Linked DNA regions of Homo sapiens: regions 1 and 2 are each linked to region 3. The links come from fine-mapping of genetic effects on gene expression. A gene starts in region 3. Each other region holds a variant in brackets. All regions are shown on one strand. Distances are between the middles of the regions.

Region 1 (2,762 bases), 60 kb before region 3:
CCACTCCGGCTTCAGCGAGAACATGGCTTCCTCAGGCTCTTCACTGCAGAGGGAGGGCTCTGCACACAACAAGGCTCTGGTTGGGACCGTGATACAGATCTGAGTGCTGAGGCTTCTGAGGCTGTCGCTCCTGCCCTAGGAGCTGGCACTGGGAGCCCCCATTCTGCCTAGGACTGTGAGCCCCTCCCCAGGTAACAGAGCTCCCTCCCAGGTAAATGCAGAGGATGGACCCCTGGGAAAATGAAGGGAAGGAGAAAGAGCACCACAGAGGAAAGCTGTCCACCACCCAAAGTACAGAGAACAAAAGCAAAGCACCATTCCAGTTAATACATGCCCCCACTACACACTGAGCACCAAGGAGCTAGGCCCGTGCCCAGGGCTGGAGCGAGGACACTCCTGCCTTCATGCCTGCACTCCAGGAGCTCACAGTTTCTTCCTCTGAAGCCCGTCCTCCACCCAGGCACCAAGGAACCCTTTTTTTGGTCTCTAAAATCATAGTTTGTTACCCTCCTTCAAGCCTCCCAGTGGCTTCCCAATAAGGTGCAAACTCATTTCCTGGTGGCCCAGCCTCCAAGGCCTGGCTCTTGCCCTCCTCTCTCACCTCTCTCTTGTCTCCTTTCTGCCCCTGAGCAGGTTCACTTCCTCCTGGGCCTCGGCCCATCCCTCTGGCACGTCCCTCTCCAGGAGCCCTGCCCTGGAGTCCTGTGTAAACAGCCAGGCACGCTCTGCCACTCAGCTATGGTTTCCTTCTTCATTCTTGTTTGTTTACTAAATCAGCTGCCAAAACAAAACAATGGGGGACTTCAATCACACGGCAGGGTGCCCCTCTGAGACGAAGCTTCCAGAAGAACAATCAGGCAGCAACATTTGCTGTTCTGAAATATTTGCTGTTCTGCAGACTCCACTGGTGATACCCAGGCAAACAGGGTCTGGAGTGGACCTCCAGCAAACTCCAACAGACCTGCAGCTGAGGGTCCTGACTGCTAGAAGGAAAACTAACAAACAGAAAGGACATCCATACCAAAACCCCAT[C/T]GGTATGTCACCATCATCAAAGACCAAAGGTTGATAAAACCACAAAGATGGGGAGAAACCAAAGCAGAAAAGCTGAAAATTCTAAAAATCAGAGCTCCTCTCCCCCTCCAAAGAAATGCAGCTCCTCACCAGCAACAGAACAAAGATAGACAGAGAATGACTTTGACGAGTTGAGAGAAGAAGGCTTCAGATGACCAAACTTCTCCAAGCTAAAGGAGGAAGTTTGAACCCATGGCAAAGAAGTTAAAAACCTTGAAAAAACATTAGACGAATGGCTAACTAGAATAACCAGAGTAGAGAAGACCTTAAATGACCTGATGGAGCTGAAAACCATGGCACGAGAACTACGTGATGAATGCACAAGCTTCAGTAGCCGATTCGATCAACCAGAAGGAAGGGTATCAGTGATTGAAGATCAAATGAATGAAATGAAGCGAGAAGAGAAGTTTAGAGAAAAAACAGAAAAAGAAATGAACAAAGCCTCCAAGAAATATAGGACTATGTGAAAAGACTAAATCTACGTCTGATTGGTGTACCTGAAAGTGACAGAGAGAAGGAAACCAAGTTGGAAAACACTCTGCAGGATATTATCCAGGAGAACTTCCCCAACCTACCAAGGCAGGCCAACATTCAAATTCAGGAAATACAGAGAACATCACAAAGATACTCCTCAAGAAGAGCAACTCCAAGACACACAATTGTCAGATACACCAAAGTTGAAATAAAGGAAAAAATGTTAAGGGCAGCCAGAGAGAAAGGTCGGGTGTACCCACAAAGGGAAGCCCATCAAACTAACAGCTGATCTCTCGGCAGAAACTCTACAAGCCAGAAGAGAGTGGGGGTCAATATTCAACATCCTTAAAGAAAGAATTTTCAACCCAGAATTTCATATCCAGCCAAACTAAGCTTCATAAGTGAAGGAGAAATAAAATCCTTTACAGACAAGCAAATGCTGAGAGATTTTGTCACCATCAGGCCTGCCTACAAGAGCTCCTGAAGGAAGCACTAAACATGGAAAGGAAAAATCAGTACCAGCCACTGCATAAACATGCCAAATTGTAAAGACCATTGATGCTAGGAAGAAACTGCATAAACTAACGAGCAAAATAACCATCTAACATCATAATGACAGGATCAAATTCACACATAACAATATTAACCTTAAATGTAAATGGGTTAAATGCTCCAATTAAAAGACACAGACTGGCAAATTGGATAAAGAGTCAAGACCCATCAGTGTGTTGTATTCAGGAGACCCATATCATGTGCGGAGACACACATAGGCTCAAAATAAAAGGGATGGAGGAAGATCTTCCAAGCAAATGGAAAACAAAAAAAAGGCAGGGGTTGCAATCCTAGTCTCTGATAAAGCAGACTTTAAACCAACAAAGATCAAAAGAGACAAAGAAGGCCATTACATAATGGTAAAAGGATCAATTCAACAAGAAGAGCTAACTATCCTAAATATATATGCACCCGATACAGGAGCACCCAGATTCATAAAGCAAGTTCTTAGAGACCTACAAAGAGACTTAGACTCCCACACAATAATAATGGGAGACTTTAACACCCCACTGTCAACATTAGACAGATCAATGAGACAGAAAGTTAACAAGGATATCCAGGAATTGAACTCAGCTCTGCACCAAGTGGACCTAATAGACATCTACAGAACTTTCCACCCCAAATCAACAGAATATACATTCTTCTCAGCACCACATTGCACTTAT
Region 2 (2,762 bases), 33 kb before region 3:
AGCGCAGGCACCGCAGCATTTCAACCCTGTGTGTTTCAGCCACCTGAGGCCAGATCGCTATTAAGAGACAGGTGCGATTTCTGACTCATGAAGAATTTGTCTGATGGTGCTAGAATGCTGCCTGAGCTCTGTGCAAGGTGTGGGGCAGCGCGGGGAGGGTGCAGCAGCCTAGCGGGGCGGCCGGCAGCCCTCAGCACAACGGCATTTGGTCGAGGCCCTGCTGTCCCTTGGGAAGTTAGATCATGTGCTTTCTGAAGTTATAGCATCCAAGAATGGTGGAAATCAAGCAGAACACTGATGTGGTTTGAGTTATTTTCGTCACTTTCCACAAAATCCTGCAAGGGAGAGATGGGCTTCCACTAGCGCTAGCTCCTACGCAAACAGAGGGGGAAGGAAATACTACATTTTCTAACCCAGGCCTTGTGTCCGTTAAATGAGCATTTTTACAAAGCTAAAAAACAGCCAAATATGGCCCAAAGCTAAACAATAGCCAAAGTGAAACAGTTCTAAATGAGGGCTGTGGAGCAGGAACCCCAGCAGAAGTTAAAACTGTGACCCAAGACTTTACCAAGCATCTTTTAAGAACTCGATGCAGACAACGCAAGTCAATGCACTAGCAAGGATCGGGTGAAAAGTGTTATCATAGTCACCATTAATTTAATAGCTAAGGGGACAGACTCAGTGACAGAGGCCAGTGAGTAAAACAGATGAATATTCAAGCCTAAAAACTGCATCTGGACACAAAGAAATGGGGCTGTGGTTATTTGCACATTACAATGATCAGAAGTAAATAGGCTATATGCCCATTGGAGTGTTGAAGGAACCGTTAATATATTTCTAAAGAAATCTCAGGCCCAGTCTGAGACTACAAAAGCCCGAAAATATGCTGGATTCCCTGGTCCAACATCCCACACTGCACGGTGTCAAAATCATGCATCCTCTGGGAAGGACCAGCTCCCTAGTGCCCACATCAGAGGTGGCAATGGAGGATGATTGACAGGGAGGACCCTTCTGAAGGCGGAGCCAAAAGCCATGAAGACACAGTTCAAGGCGATGCTCCTGGAGACAGTGGGTGGGGACCACATGGGCCAGCCAAGGAACCCAGTCCACTGCCGGACGGAGAGGCCTTTTCACTCCTGCCTAGCAGGGTGGGTCCATCACTGTAAACCAGTGATCTCTGTGTTTCTCTTTCCTCCCTTTTCTGAATGGAAGATTGACATTTTTAAATTGTGGTTATTTTATCTTTCCTCTCAAGGAGAAAAGGTAGGGTAGGTTGGGAAAAAAATGGCCTGTCTTTTAGTTCATAGGTCACCAGCCATGAGAAGCCACATCTGGGACTGATGGAGCAGACTGCCCACACACAAGCTAGATGCAGAAACTGGGTGTGATTTGGGAGTGGTGGCTTGGGAATCAGAATGCGCTCTATGTGGAAGAGCAATGTCTGTGGAAATCAGAGAAAACCACAGTGGCAGATGCAGCAGACATTGCTAGGGGCCTTTCCCATATTCATTCTTTGTTGGTAGCATATCCTTATTTTATTAAGGGTAGCAATGTGCCATTGAAAAACTACATTTCCCAGCTTCCCTTGCTGGTAGTTATGGCCATGTGACTAAATGCCGACCAATGAGATGCAGACAGAAGATTATGTGTGATCTTTGTAGAGAAACGCCTTTTTCCCGCCTTTTCTCTTTTCCCCAGTTTCTACCTA[G/C]AATATGAACATGATAGGTAGAGTTGCACTCACTGTCACTGTTTTAGTCCATGAGAAGACCTGAAAATGAAAATAATGTGACAAGAACTCAGAATATAAATACTACCATGTTTGCTCATTGCCAGATTTCTATTACAGGAAGGGTGAGAAACAAACCTTCTGTTTTGTTTAAGCTATTGATCTTCTATATCCTCTTCTTTAGCTGGAAGTAGAATATAATTCTTACCTGATTCAAGCTCATCACCTACGCTTTTGGTGTCAATTTTAGCATCTGCAAAATGGGGATAAAAAAAAAACTATATCCAAGACTTCTTTGTGAGAATTTAAATGACATAATATATTTTAAAAGTCCAGCTCCAAACTTGTCACATAATAATTGCTGGATAAATAGAAACTATTCCTGCATTTACTACTATTACTAGTAGCATTATTATTATTATATAATCACTAATGACTAGGTCAAGCCAAGATCGAAACATAAGTATTCTAACAGCCAAACCTTTGCTTTTGCAGTTTGTAATCTTACTAATTCTCAACACCTTACCCTGAGCTACAGATAGACTCAAAGCACCAGAATAAAGGACAGAAATATTTGAGGCCCAGATGAGGAAGGTTTGCTGCAAGCAGCAGGCAGAGGTTAGAGCAGGATCAACCTGCTTTTTCTGTAAAGAGCCTTATAGTAAACATTCTTGCTTTGCAGGCCATACGGGTTCTGTTGCAGGTGTTCAATGTTGCCATCACAGCATAAAAGCAGCCATGGGCAATGTGTAAATGAAAGAACATGGCTGTATTCCAACAAAACTTTATTTACCAAAAAGGCAACAGGCTGGCTTTGGCCAGCAGGGCCTGGTTTGCCAATCCCCTGCCTAGAGGGATGTCCTGTGAGAAAAGACGCAAAAGAGACATGGAGGAGGCCCTAGTTCTGCAGCAATCTGTCCCAAGGCCCGGAGAAGGTCACAGATGCCCCTGTGCCCCCTCCAGCTTGTCCCCCAGTGCTCAGCACCTCAACACCGTGCTCTTCCTGGGCTCAGAACAAGGCGTGTGCAGCTGCACA
Region 3 (2,762 bases):
CAGCCTGCCCATGCCAGCCCCTGCCAAGGACTCCCAGGCCCCCTTGCACCCAGCGACTGGAAAGGTAATGCCTAACGGCCCAACATCTTTAGAGCTGTAATCTGTCACCTCGCAGAGGAGTGCTGATGGTGCCCAGACAGACTGCTCAGTTATGCCTCTGGAGTGGGAGGTGCAGGAGGTCACCATGGGCTTTGTGCGGAACCAGGAGAAGCAGCCCTGGCTGTGAGATCAGGCCTGGCGAGGACAGCTCCTGCAGTGCCAGCTCTGCACCACCTCCAAGTGCTGCTGCCTCTGGCATGGGAGGTGTTATCATGGACACCATAAATGTGGGACCTTCAGGACTGGTGACAATTTTGATGGGCTGCACTAAAAAATCTGTAAAGGTGGTTAAGATTTAGCATGACTGACTGCCTAAATGCTTCCTTTCATGTGTCTATAAAAGTGATATTATCAAAGCGGAGCTCTGGGACGATTAATCTGGTTGCAGTTCTCAAGGAGTCCAGGCAATATTACTGCCAGGCCTGGAGGTGTGACCGGGGGGTGTGGGTCAGTGTGGCCATGGCCCTGGCAGGGGCAGCGGGGAAGGAGGGTGAGCTAAAGACGCTGGGTTTCATTTTGAATATGTTGAGTTGGAGGAAGAGGTCAGCCTGGAACTTAGGAGCGATGGAAGAGCCAGCATTCTTGCCTTAGCTTGGGGGTGAGGTTCCCCTTGCTCACTGCAGTTTCTCAAGGCCCGAGGCTTTGCGCTGTGGAAAGAAGTCTGAAATTTCAGGGACAGGGACAAGTGTTGCATGGGAACCTCCATGGGAAAGACAAGGTGGTAAGGAGAGGTCTTTGGGGCTGCCGCCTCCCGACCCCCACTGAAGACAGAAAGGAAAAGGGGCCAGAGGGAGATTTGTCTGGGGAGTAACGGGCAAACTGAGAATGCCATCCGCTGCAAGCTACAGCCACCCTGGGCTCTTCACACGTAGACAGAGCCGCCCCCTCCCATCAAGCGTTGCGGGCCAGCACTGCAGGACCCTGGCCTACAAAGGCAATGGGCCTGTGGCTGGCGTCACCCTCCCTCTGGGCAGCCGTGCAGGCACCCACAGGCCCTTGTGACTTTGGTCTTTTGAGAACTATGACAGTTCTGCCTGTAAGGTATGTTTTTTCTCTGTTTCTTTCTCAGCCACCATCACCAAGCTACTTACCACTTAGAAAGGGGAGTAAAAGTCAGGCCTGGAAGCAAACCCCGAGGAAGGCTGGGCTCAGCCTGTTGTGGGCATGGGAGGGCCTCTCTGCCTGAAAGCCGTGAGAGGTGAAGTCCAAGGATGGTCACTGAGGCCTCAAAGGTCTCCTCACTGTGCCACTGAGTCAGATCTTGAGTTCATCCAGGCTTGTGGGGACCCAGAGGACAGAAGATCATGGCTGTTGCCACCCATCTAGAAAATTGAGCCTCTTTCCACGTGTCCTTGGCCTGTGAGTACAAGCTGTCTGATCTGTTGATTGGAGGCTTGAGACAGAACACAGACACAATCCCATCAGGAATTTTCCAGAAGCCTCTGAGATGCCCCCTCCACCCACAATGCCCGAAATAGACAGCTCCCTCAGCGAGCAGACCTCTGGGGTCACAGACCATTTATAAAGGAGCGTGGTGCTCACTAATGCGGCTTTGGAGCTACAGCAAAGCGTAGCAAAAGCCTTGGGAAAAGTTCAGAGTGAGATTAGATCGAGGCTTTCTTGTCTGGGCAAGGCGAGGAGGCTGCCGTCACCTGGCTGGCGGGGAGACCTTAACCCCATGAACTTCAGAGTCTGGCCCCTTGGCCCAGTGCACCCTGGGAAATCCCCTGACTGCTGCACTGGGGAGTGACTGTGGTGAGGGACGTGTCCTCCCCCAGGGCCTCTGCCCTCCATTTGCCTCACAACCCAGGGCCCAGCACAGTCGGGATCACCAAGGTTAGAGCTGTTTCCTCCTCTCAGAACCACAGAGGGGGCCCTGAAAGTGCAAGATTGGAATGCCACTCCAAATGCCACGTGGCTTCCCTGGGACCCACTAACTGGGCAGCAGGGACCTCAGTGCTCTGGGAGGAGTTGGTGGTCCTGACGCTATGCACCCCTTTGGGCAGAATGACCCCCAGGGGACAGAGGCAGCGAGGGGCATCACTCAGATTACCTGGTGGACCCTCACACACCACTCTCATTAAATAGGTAAGAGAATAAAAGCTCAGAAAGGTTCGGTGAGCTGTCAAGACATATGGGGCAAGCCCGTGTTCTAGCCCAGATCTGTGTGAGGTTGAAGCCTTTGAAGGAAGGGCATGGCCCATGAATAAAGGATGTAGCCAAAGGGATCCAGAAGAGGTAGGCTTCAGAATTCCACCCACTCATGGACAGCCAGGTCCCAGTGAGGGCCAAGAAAGACCAGCTCCCTACACCATGAGCCTGGCTGAGGAGCCAGCCTGGAACCCTGGGAAGGAAGGGATCTGTGCTCCATTTGGGCACGCAGAATCATGCCTGATCCCAGACAGACTTTATGTCATCAGCTTTTCAGCTTTACTCTCCAGGATGGTGGATTTGATAGAAGAAGGAATTGTCTGGGTTGTATGTCCAATATGCAATTGTATTGTATATGGGACATCCTAGTTCTCGCTCCTCTGCCCCATCCCAGCTGCTTCCCTATGAAATCAGCAGTGGTTCCCCCGACCCGCCCTCCCCTGCTCTCTCCCATCACCCAGGCACTGCAATCTCCCACTCCATCTCCTCATCCCTTTACCCTGAGCCCCTTT

Direction of the effects. Positions count from the first base shown, and alleles are read on the strand shown. Sizes are in standard deviations (SD) of each study's normalised expression.
As copies of C replace T in region 1, the expression in minor salivary gland of the gene that starts at base 1,493 in region 3 goes down (moderate effect, 0.54 SD a copy in GTEx).
As copies of C replace G in region 2, the expression in caudate of the gene that starts at base 1,493 in region 3 goes down (moderate effect, 0.49 SD a copy in GTEx).

Evidence for each region. PIP is the estimated chance that this variant, and not a neighbour inherited with it, causes the effect. A credible set is the group of variants that fine-mapping cannot tell apart.
Region 1: its variant is the best candidate, but not a certain one, in a credible set for the expression of B3GAT1-DT in minor salivary gland (GTEx, PIP 0.51).
Region 2: its variant is the best candidate, but not a certain one, in a credible set for the expression of B3GAT1-DT in caudate (GTEx, PIP 0.83).

What each region holds. Positions count from the first base shown.
Region 1 is chr11:134,495,707-134,498,468 of GRCh38, reverse strand. All of the region lies in intron 5 of B3GAT1-DT (B3GAT1 divergent transcript), which reads right to left. Among named protein-coding and RNA genes, the nearest start is that of B3GAT1-DT, 61 kb to the right of the region's middle. The variant C/T (reference allele first, on the strand shown) is at 1,033.
Region 2 is chr11:134,468,704-134,471,465 of GRCh38, reverse strand. The region is part of intron 3 of B3GAT1-DT (B3GAT1 divergent transcript); the gene reads right to left. Among named protein-coding and RNA genes, the nearest start is that of B3GAT1-DT, 34 kb to the right of the region's middle. The variant G/C (reference allele first, on the strand shown) is at 1,709.
Region 3 is chr11:134,435,213-134,437,974 of GRCh38, reverse strand. B3GAT1-DT (B3GAT1 divergent transcript) reads right to left here and starts at 1,493. Exons shown (of 6, transcript NR_033852.1): 1 at 1,191-1,493.